Regions from separate parts of the Homo sapiens genome. Here all the other regions are reported to be linked to region 3. Evidence: microRNA targets listed by miRTarBase, many of them from high-throughput screens and not tested one by one. Region 3 holds a microRNA gene; each other region holds the end of a gene's coding sequence.

Region 1 (5,152 bases), not on the chromosome of region 3:
CCCAGTTACTCGGGAGGCTGAAGCAGGAGAATCGCTTGAACCCGGGAGGCGGAGGTTGCAGTGAGCCGAGATCACGCCACTGCACTCCAGCCTGGGCAACAGAGCGAGACTCCATCTCCAAAAAAAAAAAAAAAAAAAAAAAAAAAAAGCACATTTACAAAAGTGTAGGAAATAGGCCGGGCGCATTGGCTCACATCTGTAGCACTTTGGGAGGCTGAGGTAGGTGGATCACCTGAGGTCAGGAGTTCAAGACCAGCCTGCCCAACATGGTGAAACTCCGTCTCCTACTAAAAATACAAAAATTAGCTGGTCATGGTGGCGCACGCCTGTAATCCCAGCTATTCGGGAGGCTGAGGTGGGAGAATTGCTTGAACCTGGGAGATGGAGGTTGTAGTGAGCCGAGATTTTGCCACTGCACTCCAGCCTGGGCAACAGAGTGAGACTTCATCTCAAAAGAAACAAAAAAAGAAAAGAAATGGAAAGGAACTACACCTGAAACTTGTAATATTTTGAAGGTAGCTCTGCCTTTGAGGGCCTAATTTTCCCCAGGCTATATTCCCCTTTCTTTGAAAAGCACCCACATGTATTTAACAGTAAACTGTGCATACAGTTTCAGAGGTTCAGGAGCCCCATAACCTATCTTGGATCTCAGGTTACACAGGTTAAGAATTCTTATTCATGCCAAAATATACAATCCAAAGGTAGAATTTTAGGTTATTATTTTAATCTTTGTGGTATTCTGTTTTTCAAACTTTCTAAAATTAGTATTATTTCTGTAACTAGGAAAATACATTTTAAAGAGTTACCAGGAAGAAAAGGAAGAAAGAAAGAGGAAGGAAGGAAGGAAGGAAGGAGGGAGGGAGGGGAGAGAGGGAGAGAAAAAAGAAAGAGTGACAGAAAGAGAAGAAGGAAGGAGGGAGGGAGGGGAGAGAGGGAGAGCAAAAAGAAAGAGAGAAAGAGAAGGAAGGAGGGAGGGAGGGGAGACACGGAGAGCAAAAAGAAAGAGAGAAAGAGAAGAAGGAAGGAGGGAGGGAGGGGAGAGAGGGAGAGAAAAAGAAAGAGTGAGAGAGAGAAAGAGAAGAAGGAAGGAAGGGAGAAAGAAAGGGAAGGGAAGGGAAAGGGATGGGAAAGGGAAGGGAAAGGGAGAGAAAGTAAGGAAAATGAATTAGTTTTGTGTTCCCCAAGTTAATCTTTGCTGAGTGGCTGAGATGTTGGTTGAAAGGATGGGCAAGAACAGAGTAGGGTGACAGTCATTGGTCACCTACAACTTTAGTCTAAGACAAAGGGTTGAAAGAGACCATCTTGGCCAGGCGTGGTGTCTCATGTCTGTAATCCCAGCACTTTGGGAGGCCCAGGCAGGCGGATCACCTGAGGTCGGGAGTTTGAGACCACCCTGACCAACATGGAGAAACCCCATCTCTACTAAAAATACAAAATTAGCCTGGTGTGGTGGTGCATGTCTGTAATCCTGGCTACTCGGGAAGCTGAGTCGGGAGAATCTCCTGAACCTGGGAGGCGGAGGTTGCAGTGAGCTGAGATCACACCATTGCACTCTAGCCTGGGCAACGAGAGCAAAACTCCATCTCAAAAAAAAAGAAAAAGACCATCTCATTCGTACATGTTTTTCTACATTTCTCCTCTATTTCAACAGTTTTGCTTTTAAAATATGTATTTTTGCAGCCACAATCGGGAGATGCCTTCTGGATATCATCCTTTGACCATTAATTTTAATTTTGAATTGATTCAAAGTTTTCTCATTCATCCAATCTTTCCTCATATTCCCTTGTTTTTATGGATAAGCTTCCAATATTTCTGCCTAAACTTGTTCAAGTTCTAAACATGAGTTTCTTCATAGTAGAAAATATGGCTTTGTGGTGGCTGTCTCAACAGTCAAGTGTTTGCTCATTAAAGAAACTTCATTAACACTAGTATTAGGGGCCTATCAGGTATTGATACTGACAAGCTTCCATCACCAAGTTGGACTTGGGTGGTTCAGTCCTGTTCTCATGGCCAATGAGAAGTTAGGGGAGGAGGTGCTCCAATTATTACGTCCAATAGAATTAAGAGAAAGGGAACCAGTGGGCACAGGAAGACAGCTGGACCTCTCACTGAGATACTGCAAAGGCTAACAGCCAGTCTAGGAACTTAGTCACAGTGGGCCCTCCTTGAGCCAGTTCCACTGTTCAGAAAGCTATGCCAAGCCCCTAAAAGACCTAAAGGCTGACAAAACATCTGACTTTTCGGTAGAATCCCATCATTAAGTATATGAACAATCCAGTATGGTCATCTTATGTTATGTGTATCTGACTGATAAGGGGGAAAAAAAAAGAAGAGTAATAATCAACTTAGCCTAGAAGGTAAAATATATCAAAACAAGAGTCTATGTAAGAACAAACAGAAATCTTTGGTGTTAAAAGGTTGGAGGCAGCCAGGTGCAGTGGCTCATTCCTGCAAATCCCAGCACTTTGGGAAGCTGAGGCAGGAGGATAGCTTGAGGCCAGGAATTTGAGACCAGCCTGGGCAACACAGCGAAACTTTGTTTCTTCAGTTATTACAGCTATTCCCAAAAACAAAAAGTTTGGAATAGCCGTAATACTCATCTAGGATATTTCTATTATGTAGGAATTAGTATCTATACTTTTCTTATGCCAGCACTTAGCTGCCCCACCAAAAGGTCTTTCACTGACACAATAAAGAGGCAGGATTTGAATTCAGACAGATCTGGCTCTTAAATACTAGTCCACTTCACTGCACCATGCTACCTCCCACAACTAGGATGGGAAAAGACATTTACGATTGTGAAAAGCCTGGAACGCACGAACTGATCAGTTTAAGAGGGTTCGATGCATACACCTCCTACACAGTGTTATGAAACTGTCCCAAATATTTAGGAGGAACTGAGCGTTCAGACACTAGAATTAGCTTTCAAACTATGCCAACATGTCATTTAACATGCAAGTGCTCAAAATTAAATTGCACTTCTGCCCTCAAAAAACCCTAGTTGATAGCTTGGGTGTTTCTTATCATTTTTATTAGCTGGGGTTATGAAACTTAAATGGGTGATGTTGCTAAAACACTTTTCTCTAACACTTTCCCATGGGGAGTTAGAGGGAGGCTGCATGATTTGGCCGGGTTTTGTTCATCACAAATTAGGTCAACAGCCCAATCCCAAAAGAAAGCACCATTAGTGAAATGACACGTTTCAAGGGCTTTCCAAAATCAGTCCACTGGGTTTTGGCAAGCTCCAGCAAGGGTGGAGAGGGGTAAGGAGCAGCCAGGCCTTAATGGCCTTCTGAACTTGGGTCCTGTATCTGACAAGGTTTCCAATGGCTCCTATGAACAAAACTGACTTTGCTCTTACTGCTGTTATGCAATTAAAGCAGCCAAATGCTGAAATAAAAAATCTTAACAATAAGGATTTACAGTAACGAAAAATTACCCCGTTTTTTCTTCAGTGATGATGCAGCCAGATTGATGAGAGAAAAAAAAAATCAACATTAGGAAACAGAATGTTGATTTCCTTTGTTCTAAAAATAATCAAGTAGCCTGATTATTTTTAGCCAAAATGCAATATAGCAATGAAAGAATACTTTGTGAAATGTTTAACACTGACATCTTTTAATGTTACTCTTTTCAGATTATTTCAACAAGCAAAGTAAGTGTCAGCAGTTTTTACTATAATTGCCAAATGGTATTAGGAATATTACCTTTCCTCCCTTGCTTACAACAAAAACAAATACAAAAATTAAAGTTATAGGTAAAGATATATTATCAAAGGGGATTTTTTTTTAGACAAGAGTCTCGCTCTTGTCACCAAGGCTGGAGTGCAGTGGCGCAATCTCAGCTCACTGCAACCTCCGCCTCCGGAGTTCAAGCGATTCTCCTGCCTCAGCCTCCTGAGTAGCTGGGATTACAGGCTCCCACCACCATGCCTGTAATCCCAGCTAATTTTTTGTATTTTTACTAGAGACAGGGTTTCGCCTGGGTGACAGAGCGAGACACCATCTCAAAGAGTAGTGGCTATCAACCTACACTGTACAGGAGCCCTTGGGAATTACATTTTTAAAAAAGACACATGGTGGACCCTCATGCCCCTCATCAACGAAACAGAACTGGGTACTTTCCCAGATGAGGCCCATGTGCAGCCGTGATTTACCTTGGAACCCCATTCGGCCTTGAAGTTTGGGAGGAAAGAATTCCATTTGTAGCTCCAGCAGAGATTTATGATTAAATTTACGGTGTTTAGCCCATCTCCCTGGCCAAGGAGACTTAAGGAGACACTGGCTGAGGGTTTCCAGAAAATGTTATTCATTCTTCTGCAAAAACTGCAGCCAGGACTACCTCTGGTTAATCCCATCAGTTTGGACAGGTTACCTTTCACTAGCAACATTAAAGGCCCCAAATTAGAAAGCAACACATAGGCATGGTGAAGTCAAGAAAAGGGTGGACTTGAATGTTTATTTACAGGATGCTGCAAGATAGGAAATTCCACATAGAAATTAGAAACCTAGTCAGAGGACAAGCTTCATACAGTATGTATGTACAGTTGGAACTGTTCAAGTATAGTTTCAGTGTAAAAAGTGCTACAGTAACAAACCACATTTAAGAAAGAGTTCTTAGTAGAGAAACAATAAGACAAAATACCAAACGTAGTACACAACAAATTTATGTCTCAGCTACATGATCTAAAAGTTAAAGGTCCCAGGAGCCCCATCCTGAACTTGGAAAGTGTAGCCTTCAGAGGTAGTTTCTGGTACAACGTTTTGATCTTCCTCTTCCTGGAAATATATTAAAAAATAAGTATAAAAATGATATAAGTATTCCAAGCAGCAGCCTACCTGAAGTCTGTATTTAATCTCTAGGTCTTGATCTGCATATTACACCTTTAATCCTGTATGATATTATAGTATTTGACATAGAGGAGGGAGGGTCTCTGAAACTTTGCCAATTCATAAATGCTAGCTACTACAGTAACACAAACAGGCCGAGATTTTTTTCTTCCCCAACCGTCACTTTTCAATAGGAAAAGACTGTATTAGGCCCAGAGCATGGTGATGAGTTTGGCCTACTTCTCTATCACCTCCTACAATGACACCCGTTAACTTACCCTCAAGATATTCTAAGATTCTCAAGGTTGTTCATTTGAAACTAA
Region 2 (5,152 bases), not on the chromosome of region 3:
AACTTTCCCGTGTCTTTAAATAGATTCTAAAAAAATAGTTTCTCCAGCTTTTCTAGATGCTCCCAATGGAAGAACTGGGCAGAACTTCCTCAGGCAATCATCATTAATTTGTATGGTTCTTTCTTCTGGCATTTTCATACTTCTAAATATATATATTTGGAACACTATTTCTTGATTTAATATTGTAGACTTTTTTGTAATCAATTTTACATTGTGGTACATGAGCATTTAACTATCTTAAACTTTTACTCCACAGTCTCTTGTCCTCTTAACGTGGTTCTTTCATGATTTAAAACTTCAAACCGCATTTGCTTTACATAATATCAAGACTCTCTAAAACATTCTTCACTGCAAGTGCACGTGGTTGGCAAGGGATTTTCAGAGTCAGTTGTATTTGGCATGAGTGGGATTCTCTTTGAAGTTTTCAGCAGCTCTAGTCAATATTCTAGATCTTTCCAGAATAGTTGCAGTTTCAACTACAGAAAGCTCTAGCCATTCTGAGATTGAACTGTGGTAGTTTCTCACCATTTTGGAGTGACCCCAGAGGTCTGTGCTATGTGGAATTTATCTATTTCCTGAGGCCTGGCTTTGAATCACTGCGCCATGGAAGACAGGGCAGTCACTTAGCAACCAGTGTCTCAGCAGACTCCCCAGGGCCCACTTCCCAATGTGGCTCCGTTGGGCCTTCCTTTTGCCATGTACACAGCAAGTCTTGTGACGTGATAAAGACTTGGGAAAATGGCCTCAAAAAGAATTCCAACTGCTGGGCCTGACCATGGGAAAGAAGACAAAAGAATTTTAGTAAGTTTTGGATCTTTGCCAGAAAAGGGAAGTTTTGAAATAGAGTGGTATGTTGAAACTAACAGTGGCTAGGATGTAGACATGAACAGGTCCCCCATACACTCTATACAGAGACCACAAAAGATGCCTTTTAAATGTGTTTCATTAGGAAAATTACCTGTAATTCGTGTTTTTAAATAAGAAGATTAGAAAAGGCTGTGGGATAGACTCCTTTCCTATGTTGAGAGTTATCTGTGTTTCAGCTTGTTCTTCCTGTAAAGACACCTGCACTTGTCATTTTACATGTCCCAGGTTTGGTTTGGAAAACAGAGTCATAGCGATGGTCACCCAAACCAAGGGAGGTCCCTGGTGTAGCACTACCTCCAACCCCTAGCCGGACTAGGAAACCCCTTTCCCTAGGAGTCCTGTTCATACAAGGTGTTCTGACCAGGAGATTTCTTCAGTGTCCTGGGTGCCCCTCCCACCCCCTAGAGCTGGGGGAAAACCATGGCTGAGCAGCAGGTGGGACAGGAGGGCATGAAACCGAGCAGAGTGGTCTTTCCACAGTCTTCCTGATTTGCGGTTATACCTGTTACTGACACAGTATACTTTTGTTTTGTCTCCTTCCTTCTTTTTTTTTTTTTTTGAGTTAGGATCTCGCTCTGTCACCCAGGAGTGCAGTAGTGCCATCTTGGCTCACTGCAATCTCCGCCTCTTGGGTTCGAGGAATTCTCCTGCCTCAGCCTCCCTAGTAGCTGGGATTACAGGTGTGCACCACCACACCCAGCTAATTTTTGTATTTTTAGTAGAAACGGGGTTTCACCATGTTGGGCAGGCTGGTCTCAAACTCCTGACCTCAAGTGATTGGCCCACCTTAGCCTCCCAAAGTGCTGGGATTACAGGCATGAGCCACCAGTGCCTGGCCCTGTTTTACTGTATTTCTTAGCACAGGGTTCCAGGAGACCTTATTCACTGCAAATTCATGTGGGTTCTGTTTTCCTCCCCACCCCCTCAGCTCTCCATTCTAGCCCCGTTCCTAGCTGCTAATCCAGGCTGCCACTGTCCCACTACCCAGGAGGCCTGTGCCATGCCTGGCCATTTGAAATAGTGTTCAGGGGTGTCTGACAGCCTGTGGTCTCCTGCCCTTTTCAGCTTACCACTCAGCACCTCCATGGATATCTTGCTCTCTCAGGCCCTCATCCTCCCTGCCCCTCCAGTGGAAAGTCTAATAACAGCAGGTGTTGCCATGAGGGAGGCTGGGCTTCCCAGTATACTTCACTCATCCACAAGACATTTACTAAGCACATACTGTGGGCCAGGCACAAACTGGGCCTGCGATACACAGATGAACAAGACAAGATCCTGACTGCAGTGTCTCACAAACTAAGCCGTCCATACACATACATAAACACACTGGCGCAACACAATGTCATGTATCAGTGACAGAAAATCTGTCACTGGGGTCATGAGGGATGGGCAGTCTTGCTAAACAAGGAAATTCATCAGGCAGACGAGTGGTAGGATGGGGAGAAGAAATTCCATGGGGAGGAAGAAGCATGGGCAGATGTGTAAGTGGGAAACCCTTGAATGGTCCCCAAACCATAAGTGATCTGCTACAGCCAGTGAGGGCAGGACACAGAAGACAAGGTCTTTCCTCAGGGAACTTATCTTCCAGAGAGGCGGGCAGCCGGGCAGGCTCAGAAAAAAGGATAGAGGAAGTAGTAGTAAGTGCTACTTTTAAAAGACCAGATAAAGTGTCAAGAGTTTTCACAAAAGGGAGAGAGGACTTTGGGTTAGGGATCCCAGGGAGCTTCATGGGCTGGATTTTGAAGAAAACGAAGAAAACGTAGGATGGATGTGCAGAGATGGGAGAAGAATCCAGAGGAAAGAGGTACAGTGGGGACTGCATGGTGTGCGTGAAAATAATGCCATCGCTGGGTGCAGGGAAAGCTCGGTCTCATTGATTAGAAGTGGCCAAAAGAAGTTGGGATGAGAATAGCGTGTATGTGTGTGTGTGTGTGTGTGTGCGCGCGTGTGTGTGTTGGAGGAGTCAGGATTGAGGGGCCCAGTGAGGGGAAGAAGGTGACAGTTTGGAGAGCTGAGTCCCAGACCCATGTGTACCCCTCAAACTGCAGGAGCTGACCTGGAGTTACGCTGGACTTGGAGGAGGCAGTGTGTGAAGCTATGGGGTAATTTTGGCACAGTTTCCTTGTTTTAAGTATTCTTAATCCTTTTGCAAAAACACATTTCTATATTAATAAACATGAAAAAAAGAACAGAATGGAAAATACACATAGATTTCATTTAAGATAAAAAAATACAACTTCAGTGAAATTGCAACTGCCCCCCAGGAGGCCTTCAGTGTATGTGTTCTCTTGTGGTCATTAGGGCAACGAAGGAAAAGATCTGAGAAGCCCTGACATCCTTGGCCAATTTAATTTTCACAGGAATTCTATGACATAGATGCTGTTACGTGAGAAAATGTAGGTCCAGCAAGGGCATACCAAGGCCAAGGTTACATGGCTAATACACAGCTGACTCAGAACTCAACCCAGGATCTGTGTGCAAAGTCCATGTTCTTCATGCAACAGCCTGAGCAGCTGATCAATGAGGTGTGCTAGGAAACAAAGCTGAAAAGGTAGGTTGGTGATAAATCATGGAAGGTCTTGAAGGCCAGGCTTAAATAAAGGCAGCATGTGAGAGAAAGTTCTTGGCTCACTAGGGCGAGACCTGGAGAAGCCGAAGGTAAGAACATGAAGTGCAGTACAGTCACAAGACAGGTAGTGACTCATTCATCCCAGCTTCTTTGGGGCCACCTCTTATCTATGAGACAAAGTGTGACTTGCACTCAACAGTGGCATTGTTTCTGTGGCAAAAGAAGGAAATGTGCCTCTGCTTCTGTTTGTTTTCTACTTAATGTTGTTTTGCAGAACACAGAGAACGCAGAATCATGGACCATCCCATTTTTTAGCTGAATGCTAGAGAAAGCACGTCAGCCATCTGCAACTTCTCCCAAGGTGCCCTTCCCATGATTAGGATACATTCCATAATCAACACAGCAGGACAGAACGGTATTATTGGATCTGAAAGAAAATCAATGGAGACTGGAAACCTCTAAGGGCAGTTGCAATTTTCTAGATCTATTATTTTCCATTTGGAGGTTAGTGAGACAGAACATGGTGTTGATACGAAAATTGAGAGATTTATGTTGTTTTCATAGTAGCAAAAAGAAAAAAAAAACCTCCAGAGAGGACCCCAAAATGATAACTTGGTGCAAATACAAAGTGAAGAGTTATTTGTGGCTTGAGATAAGTTGGAAATTGCTCCTTTGATTAGGAGATGGTTGCTACAGTTTGCAACGGAATGTTATTGTCTTTCTTCTTTTCTTTTTCTTTCTTTAGTATCTGTTGAGAGAGTTTATGAAGAAACCAGCCAACATCCTGGAGATCCTCAGGCCACCTCAAATACTGCTGTTTCTGTACAAAGCCTCTGATGGATTGATGTTTCATCAACTGGTACTGGGACAAGGACCCAACCACCACCATGATGAGAGCACTGTTAAGGTCAGATAAGCACCTGCCCTGGGCATAACTGAAGGCTTCAAGGCACCAGCCATCTCTAAGGAAGTGTCTGCTCACAAGACAAACGATCTTTCTACTGTTCCAGATGGCATCCTGGATATTGGCAATGCGGTTTTCTCCTGGGACAAAGTCTCTTTCTTCAAAGCACAGGTTGAATCTGTTTTGGTCACTGTATTGAGTGTCCAGGTGTTTGAGCAAAGCATTCTGCACCCATGTGAAGTCTTTGCTGCTGAAGCACAAATAGGCATCATATTTGTACATATCAGGTTCTGTGCCCTGGGGATGGTCCTTGAACACCAGTCTCTGGGCTGTCTTATAACAGATAAAACAGAAGCCCCGGAACTTTGTGACTGTGAGGATGGTCATGAGGAACAGAGTCAGAGTGACAGTGCATACAATGAAAAGGGAGAACTTTAGGGACTTTAAGACTTCCTCTTCATCACAACCTTCCGTGGAAAGAGAGAAGAGGGAAACCCCAGAGAACGAGTCAGGGTACACACAATATATGTCTGCAGGAGGCCCAGCTATAGTGACATTGGTGTGATTAAGCCAATTGATAAAAGTGCTAAGTTCACATTCACAAATGAACTTGTTATGAGTTATATCCAAGACACTAAGTGATACAAATACATCAGGATTAGGAGCTAGGAGCTGGTTCCTGGATATGTCCAGGATCTCTAAATTAGCAGGTAAATCATTGTGAGAAAGAACTGTCAGCCTGTTGGAGTTGAGGCTTAGTCCCCTTAATGCAGTCAGATGGCTAAATACTCCTGGTGGAAGGGAATTAAGAT
Region 3 (5,152 bases):
TGTTTTTTCATCAATATTCTGTCTGCAACAATTATCTAAAACAATTATGAGTAGTTTTTAAATTACTAGTTGCATTTCTACAACAAATCATAACTTTTTGAACATCTAATTATCTATTTTCAATAAGTTTCTGTAGACTCAAAACTTTTGTTTCAGATAAACTTAAGATTTAACCATCTAAGAACAGGAATCCTGATTAATCTGTATTTTCAAGGGAATATATTAATACATCATATTAGTACTTTATTGCTTTTAAAGCTGTAAAATCATAAAGATTTTACAAATAAAAATGAAGACATACAGGTTTATGTAAGTTTGTATATACATATATCCTACTTTAAAACATTATAACATGTTGATTTCAAAATAACAATTCTAAAACTGCCTAACTCAATGATTTTTTTTAACCTTGAGATTTGCTTGTAAATCTCAGATAAATCTCAGGGTAAATTTCAGATACTATTTGAAAGTCAAAAATAATAATAGAGATTCTTAAATAGACTAATGTTAATAAGTATATTACAAGTATACCTTTAGAAATAAAGATATAAATAACACTAAGAGAAAACGTGAAACTAGAAAAATTTATATTTTGGGGTTTTGTGCATTTAATCTGTCAAAACTATCATGTGTAGCAACAGTTCATGTTTCTTCTACATTTTTATTTATTCCTTATGTTTATTACTGACTGCTTGTACTATTATGATCAGATTTGTATCAAGTTTACCAGAAATATGAAAAGGTATGTTATTATGCATATAATTAATCCTTGAGTTTATTTAATGTTGCTTTTAATTTACATCTCATAAATTTTCTCATCTCATAAAGTTCCAAGTTATGTTAATATTTTATGTACAATTTAGCTTTATTGTGACAGGAAATGTTGATAAATTACCAGTTATGAGAAAAAAAAAATCTATGAGGAAAAGTATAAAACTAAAATACCAGATCAGAAAAGAGTGATATTTAAAGGTTATAGTTTCCAAATTTAGCAAATAAAAATATAGGATCCCCAGTTAAATCTGAAGTTCAGATAAAAATGAATAAATTTTAGCATACATGTATCCCATGCAACATTTGGGATGTACTTACAACAAAAAAATTAGCTATTGCTTATCCAAAAGTTAAATATAACTCAGTGTCTTGTATTTTATCTGGCAAGCCTAATAAAAGTGAATTTTTACTTATTAATATATCATTTATCACAGTTTCATCTGTTACTTATCAAAGGATTTCTATGCAACAAAGTCAGTTTTACACATTTAATAGCTATGACTTCTGCTAGTCTCAGGGAATACCGTCTCTTCCAAATTTACTCAACATGGTGTTTTTCCTTTATTTAGGGATGAACCTAAATAAAGAAGGGACCAGTTGTCAGCTTCTACACTTCCAGCACTGAAGCAAGGAGCAAAGGTAGGATTTATTAGCTAACATGTATTAAGGGCTTCCATATGAGCCAAGCAGTATGCTGAGTTCTGTACATTCATTATCTTCTTTAACCCTCACAACAGCCTTCTGAGGTGAGTGCTATTATTATCACCATTTTACAGATGAGGAAACTGAGGTAGGAAATGTCAAATTACTTGATCAAGGTTTGAATGGGAGTCAGTGGGAAGGCTGACCTGAAACTCAAAGCTTTCTGACTTTGTCAGTCTGCTTTTCCTCCCAGTTAGGACAGAAGCAGTTGTATTTGCCCCATCCTTCTTGAGAGAACCCTTTACCCCGCCTGCACCACTCTCATTCTCTTAAAAATATGAAATATTAAATATAAGGATTGCCACATCCCATGCAACCCCAGTCAGGTGCCTCACAACTCTACAACCTGAGGCCATATGAAGGCAACCCAGGTATTTCTGGGCACAGAGAGAAGTGAACCAAAGGACTGCCCATTTGGTTTACTGTCCATAAAATTACTGAGTAAAATGTTAAACATTTTCTTCTCTTCAAAATAATGATCAACTCGATCTTTCAGAAAAAATTTTCAAAGCTTTGAAAAGGTTTTTTTTGAACTCTTCACTTATTTTTATTTATAATGGCATATAATAACTGTACATATTTATTGGGTATAATGTTTCAATACATGTATCTATAGTATAATGGTCAAATTGGAGTAATTATAGCTATCACTTTAACTACTTAGCATTTCTTTGTGGTGGCAACATTCAAAATCTTCTCTTCTAGCTGTCTTGAAATATACAATACATTGGCATTTGCTGTAGTCACTCTACTGTGAAACAGAACACCAAAACTGAAAAGTTATATTTTAAAATAATCCTTTTCTACACTTCAAGTCTACATTCTTTAAAAATAATAACAGATCTGAATTCTACTCATTCAACCATTAATTAAGAATAACTATAACTTTATAACTTTTTAAAATAAGATTTGTACAGAAGTTTTGTTTCCTTGTTTGTTTGCTTGGAAAGGTTTTTGGTTGATACTTACGTAAGTGACAGGCTCTGCTTACATGCATGACCAACATTATCTTAGTCTAATCCCACAACAACCTCATCTGGTAGGTATATTTTCCAGATAAGGAAACTAAGGAACAGAGATGTTACATAACTTGCCCAGTCACACAGCTAGTAAGCTGAGAAACCAAGATTCAGGCCAGGCAGTTTGTTTCCAGTTTTCCCTTTTTTTTTTTTTTTTTGAAACAGAGTCTTGCTCTGTCGCCCAGCCTGGAGTGCAATGGTGCGATAGGGGCTCACTGCAACCTCTGCCTCCCGGGTTTAAGTGATTCTCCTGCCTCAGCCTCCAGAGTAGCTGGGATTACAGGCACCCACCACCATGCCCAGCTAATTTTTGTATTTTTAGTGGAGACGGGGGTTCACCATGTTGATCAGGCTGCTCTTGAACTCCTGACCTCAAGCAGTCCACCCACCTCAGACTCCCAAAGTGCTGGGATTACAGGCATGAGCCACTGCGCCCAGCCCAGTTTTCCATTCTTAATCAGTAGGCTCTTGTTTGAGAATATTTTATTCTTAATGATGGTATTACTCATTTTTGTACTTTATACAATGGAGTACTTCGTGTTTGGAATGGCTTCCTTGTCCATATCTTTGTAAGGTTGAGGCCAATTTTTCTGAAGGTCTAAAGATCAGGCCCAAAAGAGAGACCACATAATCACTTTGCGTTCCTTCCTCAGTAATCTCCACAACTCATTTTGTGTCAGAAATTCACCACTGCACAATAACAGGCCAACAGTGGCCAGAGTTGGCTCCCATGCTGTAAGGTTGGAGGAAGGACACACCAGGCTTCCTAAGTACTTCACACAAGGCTGCCAAAGGATTAGCTGGATGTTCCTGTGCCAGGTTCACTTAACAGGAACATGGCAAGTTGTGGAGACTAATTGGTTCTCACAGGTATTTGGGGTAATGTAAAAATACAACTGCAGGAAAGGCAATTTCCCCCTAGAATGTGACTTGCTCCTGTAAATACAATATATTTTACAGGTTTTAATGCATGTGAAATATTTATCATTGGCATGAAAATTTAAAATATATACCATTTTCCCTTTCATGCCAAAGGGCTTCTATACCCATCACAATTAAAATTAAATATGGAGTAATAGCATAGCTTTTTACTCTGATTCCCTTTTCCCCATTTTGTAAATTCACAGCTTTAACCCATGGCCACCTGCCTGAACGATGGCTTATTTCCAACTCAAGATCTCTTTCTACATACTTTATGAACATATGTATGTATGTGTGCATGTGCATGTATGTGTATATACATATATATGTATTATGTACTCATATATCAAGGAGATTTCATTTCTATTTTTAATCTATGGTATAACTTCTGCATTGATCATATAGTCATGAACCACACGAAAAAGTTCCAGTCAACGACAGACCACAAATGTGACAGTTGTCCCATAAGAAGAAAATGGAGCTGAAAAATTCCTATCACCTAATGGCGTCGTAGCCATCATAATGTAATAGCAAATGCATTACTCATGCGTTTTTGGTGATGTTGGTGTAAATAAACCTACAGTGCTGCCAGTCATATAATATTACAGCACATACAATTATCCACAATACATAACACTTGATAATGACGAATATGTTACTGGCTTATATATTTACTATAGTAAACTTTTATTGCTATTTTAGGGTATACTGCCTCAACTTATAAAAAAAAAGTTAACTATAAAACAGCCTCAGGCAGGTCCTTCAGGAGGTATCCAGAAGAAGGCATTGTTATAGCAGATTACAGCTCCATTTGTGTTACTATTTCCAGTTTTCCACTCTTAATAGAGCTTCTACTGGGACAAGAGGTGGAGATGGAAGGCAGTGATACTGATGATCCTGACCCTGTGTAGGCCTAGGCTATGTGTATGTTTCTGTCTTAGTTTTTAACAAGAAAGTTGAAAAAGTAAAATATATATATATATATATGATCTTTGAAATAGAAAAAAGCTTATAGAATAAGAATATAAAGAAAGAAAACATTTTTGTACAGCGATACAATGTGTTTATATTTTAAACTAAATGTTATTACAGAAAGAGTCAAAAAGTAAAAAAATACAAGTTTATAAAGTAAAAAAGCCATGGTAAGCTAAAGTTAATTTATTATTTAAGAAAGAAGATTTTTTTTTAATTTAGTGTAGCCTAGTTCACTGTGTTTATAAAATCCACAGTAGTGGACAGTAATGTCCTAGGCCTTCACCTTCACTCACCACTCACTCACTGATTCACCCAGAGCAACTTCCAGTCCTACAAGCTCCATGCATGGTAAGTGCCCTATACAGGTTTACCATTTTTTGTCTTTTATACCATATTTTACCTTTTATATGTTTAGAAATGTTTAGATACACAAATGCTTGCCATTGTGTAACAGTTGCCTAAAGCATTTAGTACAGTAACGTGCTGACTGAATACTTATTCAGAATTCTGCTATTTCTGTTGGAGTGCTGCATCATAGTCCTCAGAGGCACACAGATCTCACTACCTAGGGTCTACAGGCATCAAGTCATAGGTCTGAGAGAGAGATTGAAGGATTAAAAAGAAGAGGGGCAAAGAGAAATTAGAGTCTAAAAGGGGAAAAGGGATCACATTTGCCAGCCCCACTCTATCTCCAAATGTCTTTTCTGATCAATCTCATAATCAATTGATAATAAAAGTAGCCAAAAGATTATACTAACTAT
Region 4 (5,152 bases), not on the chromosome of region 3:
TTCGATACCAGCTTGGGCAACATAGGGATACCCCATCTCTACAAAAAATTTTAAAATTAGTCGGGCATGGTGGCACGTACCTGTAGTCCCAGCTACTAGGGAGGCTGAGGTGGGAGGATTGCTTGGGCCTGGGAGGTCAAGGCTGCAGTGAGCTCTAACGGTGCCACTGTACTCTAGCCTGGATGACAGAGTGAGACCCTGTCTCAAAATAAATAAATAAATAAATAAATAAAAAATAACAACTGGGTTGGGTTGTTGGCTGGCTTCGCTCCACCAAGGATAGCCAGGCATTTTTTTTCCCCTCTCCAAATGGAGGGTTCCCAGATAATCTCTAAAAAGTTCAAGCAAGAGCTAGAAAAAGTTAGGCGGGTGAGTTATGTCACATCCAGAGTACCTACTGAGTTCTCCCCTCACCCCACCTCTCTCTTCCAGGCACAGACCCCAGTTCAGTTGTCTCTGTAGGCGGAGGCTCAAAGACTGTTCGCGCAGCCACACAGGTGTGATCAGAGCCAGTGGTCTGCCCTGCACAGGGCGTTTTGGGCCAGAACTTCCTATTTCACTCCAGCAGCAGCCAGGGCCTGCTATGACTGAGGGTTGGACCCTGAAAGTGGGACTTTCTGTCTCCCTCTCTTGCTGCAGAAGAAGAGTCTTCCTGTATTTGTGCAAGTAAGGAGATGTGACTTCTTGGCTGGGAAACTCTTGCTGATCTAACTGTGTGGTTTGCACAACCTCCAAGCCTCTGCAGCAGACAGGCAGGGCTTGCTGTGTTGCTCTGAGCTAGAGAGGGAGCTTGGCCATGTTCTCTGAAAAGGTCCCCTTACATTCACTTTGCCACCTGTAGGCCACACCCCATCCAGCTCCCAGCATCTTCATCTTAAAACAGATCAGATCATGTCACTCTTCTCTTTAAACGCTTCTACGGCCTGTGCATTTCCCTTCAGATATTATCCAAACTCATCGTCGTGACCTTCAAAACCTTGTGGTCTGGCCTCTGTTGGCCTCCCTGACCTCCCCTCCCAATTCTTTCTCTGCCCCCGGACTCCAGTATCACAGTCTGTCTCTCAGCCACAATTTATTTTGCCCCTAGAGTTTGCTGTGCTTATAACACTTCTTTTTCCCATATGTCATTCATTTCTCAAGTCTAAGAGTAGCAGTTACCATCTTAGACGACCGTTCCCTTACCCCTCCCTTAGTCTTGGGTTAAGTCCCAGAATCCTTGAATTTGCCGTTCCTGATACATAAATATGTAATTTCTTGTGTGGCCTGAGACTCTCTCTCTAAACTAAGGGCTTTACAAAAGCAGAGACCACATCATTAACTCAGCACTTAACCCAGAGCCTCACACACAGCAGGCAATCAATAAATATTTGTTGACTGATCAAATGTTTTGGTGCCAGTGAAGAGTTGGGCTTGCTGCTGCTGTCTTCAGCGTAAGTCTTGCTTTTTCAGCTGGGTTTCTAATTGAGAATTTAGAGAGTGCATTGGTGAGGATTCTTTTGACTGCAAGTAACAAAATAAAATGGTGGCAAGAACTATGGAGGCGGCTGGTTTCAGGCTGGCTCAGCAGCTCAGTAACGCCATTAAAGACATGGGCCCTTTGCATCCATCTGCTCTGCCACCCTCAGTGGGTTGGCACATTGACTCTAAGCATGTTGCTTCACGTAGCAAGATGGTTGCTGCAGCTCCAGTCATCACATCTTCACACAACTGTATCCAAAGATAAAAGGAAGGGGGCAGAACTTCCTCCCTATACATCTTCCCCACCCTCTACCTCCCTCTATCACTGCCTTCTTCCCTCTCATGGGGTGGGAGGGAAGCTTTCCTGGAAACCTACAAGCAAATTTCCATTTATGTCTCTTTGGCCCAAACTGGCCACATAGCTGCAAAGGAGGCTAGGAAACCAGATATCTAGCCTGTATCATAACACGTGGATCTGCCAGCGAAGAAGAAAGGGGAACCAAACAACTCAAATGTGGGCAACCAGCATCTGTCTCAGGGAAGGAAAGCATGTGAGAGAATTTCTGGTTAATGATTGGGGGTAGAAAAGGCCATTGGAAAATAGAACCCCTGGATCCTTTTGGAAAGGTGAGGGTTGGGGTTCTGGGCCTTCTATGTCTCTTCTGTATCTATTATGGTTTTCATTCTCTTTTTTATTACTAGAGATAGAAAATCCAATGCAAATTGGTTTAAATATACAGGGGACTTTATTGCTTATATAAGTGAAAATGGGCATCAGTTAAGTTTTGATCCAGCTGCTCAAATGATATATAATCATGGACTCAGTTTCTCTAAGGTTTCCACTCTGCCCTTCACAGTGTTCCTATCCTTCTCAGGCTCCATATGCTGTCCTCCCCACCATTGCTATCCCCACAGAGCCAAGATCTCTCCATGTGATGGAGAAAAGCAACCCTACAGATGTTGACTTCACATCACGGAGCCACAATATCCAGCAGAAAAGCATCTCTTCTTGGGAATCCATTCACTTTCTCATTAGCCTTACTGGGTCATGTGCCCATCTCTGAGCCAATCACGGTGGGAAATGGGCTATGCTGGGTGTCTTCGGCCAATCACAGGGCATCTCTGTAATGAGTCCATTCCAAGTCTACCAGTGAGAAAGTAGGCGGTAGGAATGATGCTGGAGAGGCACCACCAATTGACTGCTACCCTTTGCCCTTCATTAACTCTAATCCTTAATGACATTGACACCTGCAGGCAGACTTTGGAAAAAGGCGTTTATTGGTGTGGTGGTCTCAACACTCCCCATGAATTGGAACACATGGCCCCCAGGGCCCCCCACCCCCTCCCTAGCATCCCTCCCCTGTCCCACCCCATCCCCTGGACCCTGGGAATGGAAGACAATGTGGGATGGGGCCCATGCCCCCGTCTGAGGTACAGTCACTGCGCCTTGCCCTCTCCTTTTCTCCACCAGACTCTGGGTGGTGTGGTTTGGGGTGGGTGTTTATATAGAGGGTCTCCTGGGAGTCGGAGTTGGTGACATGGCATCTTTGTCTGGGCTCAGGATGTCTGTGTGATGCCTCTCTGTCCCCCACTTTGTGTGGTGTGGTGTACCAGGGTGGAGTGTTCCTACAGTCAGAGCTGAGGCTGCGGCCTCTCAGCGTCCCTTCCTGACACCAGATGCCTACCCAGGGGGAAATACAGCTAGTCACCAGCTACCGGACAGCTGGAGCCAGGGGGCTATTGCTGGTCACAGTCGCTGGTGTGTGTGTGTGTGTGTGTGTGTGTGTCTGTGTGTGTGTATGTGTGTGTGGTGCGTCTGAGTGTCTGTGAGGGCGGTCAGGTAGCCTTTGGGAGGTACAGTTGGTGGAGAGGCCAGGAAGTGATAGACCAGCAAGCTCACACCTGTGGGCCAGCTGCAAAGGCCCCAAGGGCAGCTGGCTGGTGCCGCAGGTGGGGAAATCAAGGCCAAGGGGAGTGGTGGCAAGGGTAGGGCAAAGCACTGAAACAGACAGGTGACTCCTGCCACCAGTCTGACAGTTGGATGGAAGCACCGATTGGCCCAGGAGGGGGCCAGAAAATCCAGGGTGTGGAGGGACAGGAAAAGTGGGAAGGTCTCAGGCCACTGAGCCAGCGATGGGGCCTCTGGCTACAGGAAGCTGGTGGTTGACAGCAGGGAAGCCCAGAGCCTAGATGGAGGTCCCCCACTTACTCACAAAGGCTGAATGACAGCTTGACAGGTGAGTGCGATGCCCCTCCCCACTCCCAACCTGCCAGGAGTTGCCCTTTCGACAGGGGGAGGGGTAGTGTGCGTGCATATATTGGGGAAGCAGGGAGCCTGGTAAGCCTCTCTTCACAGCTTCCACTGCAGAGCCTCATACCTACCTCCAGCCAGAGGTGAGAGGCAATAGGGTTGGGGACAGTGGACATGGGGGTTTTGGGGGCGGGAGGACGGCTGAGTCCCTTCCCCCAGCCCACCCCCCCACACACACACAAACAGAGACACAGACACCTACACATGCATGCAGGCTCACACTCACACACCCACACCCACACAAGCCAGTTGACAGCCTGAGCTAAGAGAGAGGGGTATGGGGTGGCGGGAGTGGGTCACAATCGGAAACGTGAACGGGTGGCGAGAATGGCTGTAGAAAGATGCATAATTTTGCGTTATCCCTCACAGTGATGGGTTCTCTGAAGATCTTTCTTCCTCTGCCTCCTCCTCTTCTCCTCTCTCTTCTTCCTTGGTGGCCGAGAGCTCTTCTGCCCCCACGAGACCCACGGCTCTTGCTCCCCCGTTTCTCTCACTCTTGGCCTGAGGCCCCCTGCAGGGGGAGGTGAGCTCCACTGGGTTGCGCCTACATTCTCCACCACAGCCAGCCCAGGGCGGAGAGGAGGGCCAGGAGCCCTGGGGGCCTCGGGGCTGAGTTCTCCAGGGATCCTGGGCCTGGGGGAAGAGAAGGGGTCATGGAGGGAGGCCTGAGAGTGGGGAACCCCATGTGTGTCTCTCCAGGGGCCCCATCTCTTCTGAGCCCACTCTTTAGCGTCCTTTCTGGATCTCTCATTGGGTGTGCCTGCTTTTCTGACTCTGTTTCTTTTTTTTTTTTTTTTTCTTTTTTTGAGACGGAGTCTCGCTCTGTCACCCAGGCGCAATCTCGGCTCACTGTAACCTCTGCCTCCCAGGTTCAAGCAATCCTCTTGCCTCAGCATCCTGAATAGCTAGGACCACAGGTGCCCATCACTACGCCTGGCTAATTTTTGTATTTTTTTTTTTTTTTGGTAGAGACATAGTTTCACCATGTTGGACAGGCTGGTGTCAAATTCCTGACTTCAGGTGATCAGCCCGCCTCGGCCTCCCAAAGTGCTGGGATTTACAGGCGTGAGCCACCACGCCCGGCCTCCAAAATTATTTTTTGTTTATGTATGTGTTTGCTTATTTACCTACATGACCACTTGTTTATTGCTTTTCTACTCCTACTAGACTATAAGCTCTGCGAATCCCCAAACCTTGTTTCTTTTGTGCACAGCTGCGTCCCCCACGACAAACCCTTAGCTGGCACTCAATGAATATTGATTGCGTGGATCGGTTTCTTACTCGCATTGCTTTTCAGTCTCAGCGTCCATCTCCTAAGTTCAGGGCCAGCCTGAAGGGCGGTCCCGGCGTCTCCACTTCCCTAGCCCCGCCCCCGGCCCCGCC

The links. The annotated mature microRNA hsa-miR-297 reads AUGUAUGUGUGCAUGUGCAUG and lies in region 3 at 3,703-3,723, shown strand. An mRNA with a match to its seed (bases 2 to 7 or 8) in the 3' UTR can be bound and repressed. Matches are read on the target gene's strand: a 7mer-m8 pairs with bases 2 to 8, a 7mer-A1 pairs with bases 2 to 7 and ends in A, and an 8mer does both.
Region 1: the mRNA of KPNA2 is a reported target of hsa-miR-297. Seed matches in the 3' UTR shown: 7mer-m8 at 4,536-4,542.
Region 2: the mRNA of TLR5 is a reported target of hsa-miR-297. Seed matches in the 3' UTR shown: 7mer-m8 at 3,143-3,149.
Region 4: the mRNA of IGLON5 is a reported target of hsa-miR-297. Seed matches in the 3' UTR shown: 7mer-m8 at 3,255-3,261.

Annotation. Positions count from the first base shown.
Region 1 is chr17:68,046,130-68,051,281 of GRCh38, reverse strand. It overlaps KPNA2 (karyopherin subunit alpha 2), which reads right to left. Exons shown (of 11, transcript NM_002266.4): 11 at 4,428-4,778. The coding sequence ends at 4,686. Among named protein-coding and RNA genes, the nearest start is that of KPNA2, 13 kb to the right of the region's middle. RefSeq lists a silencer at 2,842-3,042.
Region 2 is chr1:223,106,343-223,111,494 of GRCh38, forward strand. It overlaps TLR5 (toll like receptor 5), which reads right to left. Exons shown (of 6, transcript NM_003268.6): 6 at 3,062-5,152. The coding sequence ends at 4,113. Among named protein-coding and RNA genes, the nearest start is that of TLR5, 34 kb to the right of the region's middle.
Region 3 is chr4:110,859,195-110,864,346 of GRCh38, reverse strand. It overlaps MIR297 (microRNA 297), which reads left to right and starts at 3,700; the gene lies at 3,700-3,765.
Region 4 is chr19:51,327,921-51,333,072 of GRCh38, reverse strand. It overlaps IGLON5 (IgLON family member 5), which reads right to left. Exons shown (of 8, transcript NM_001101372.3): 8 at 2,182-4,402. The coding sequence ends at 4,314. It overlaps VSIG10L (V-set and immunoglobulin domain containing 10 like), which reads left to right. Exons shown (of 10, transcript NM_001163922.3): 10 at 433-1,532. The coding sequence ends at 462. Among named protein-coding and RNA genes, the nearest start is that of VSIG10L-AS1, 9.5 kb to the left of the region's middle. RefSeq lists an enhancer at 3,893-4,815.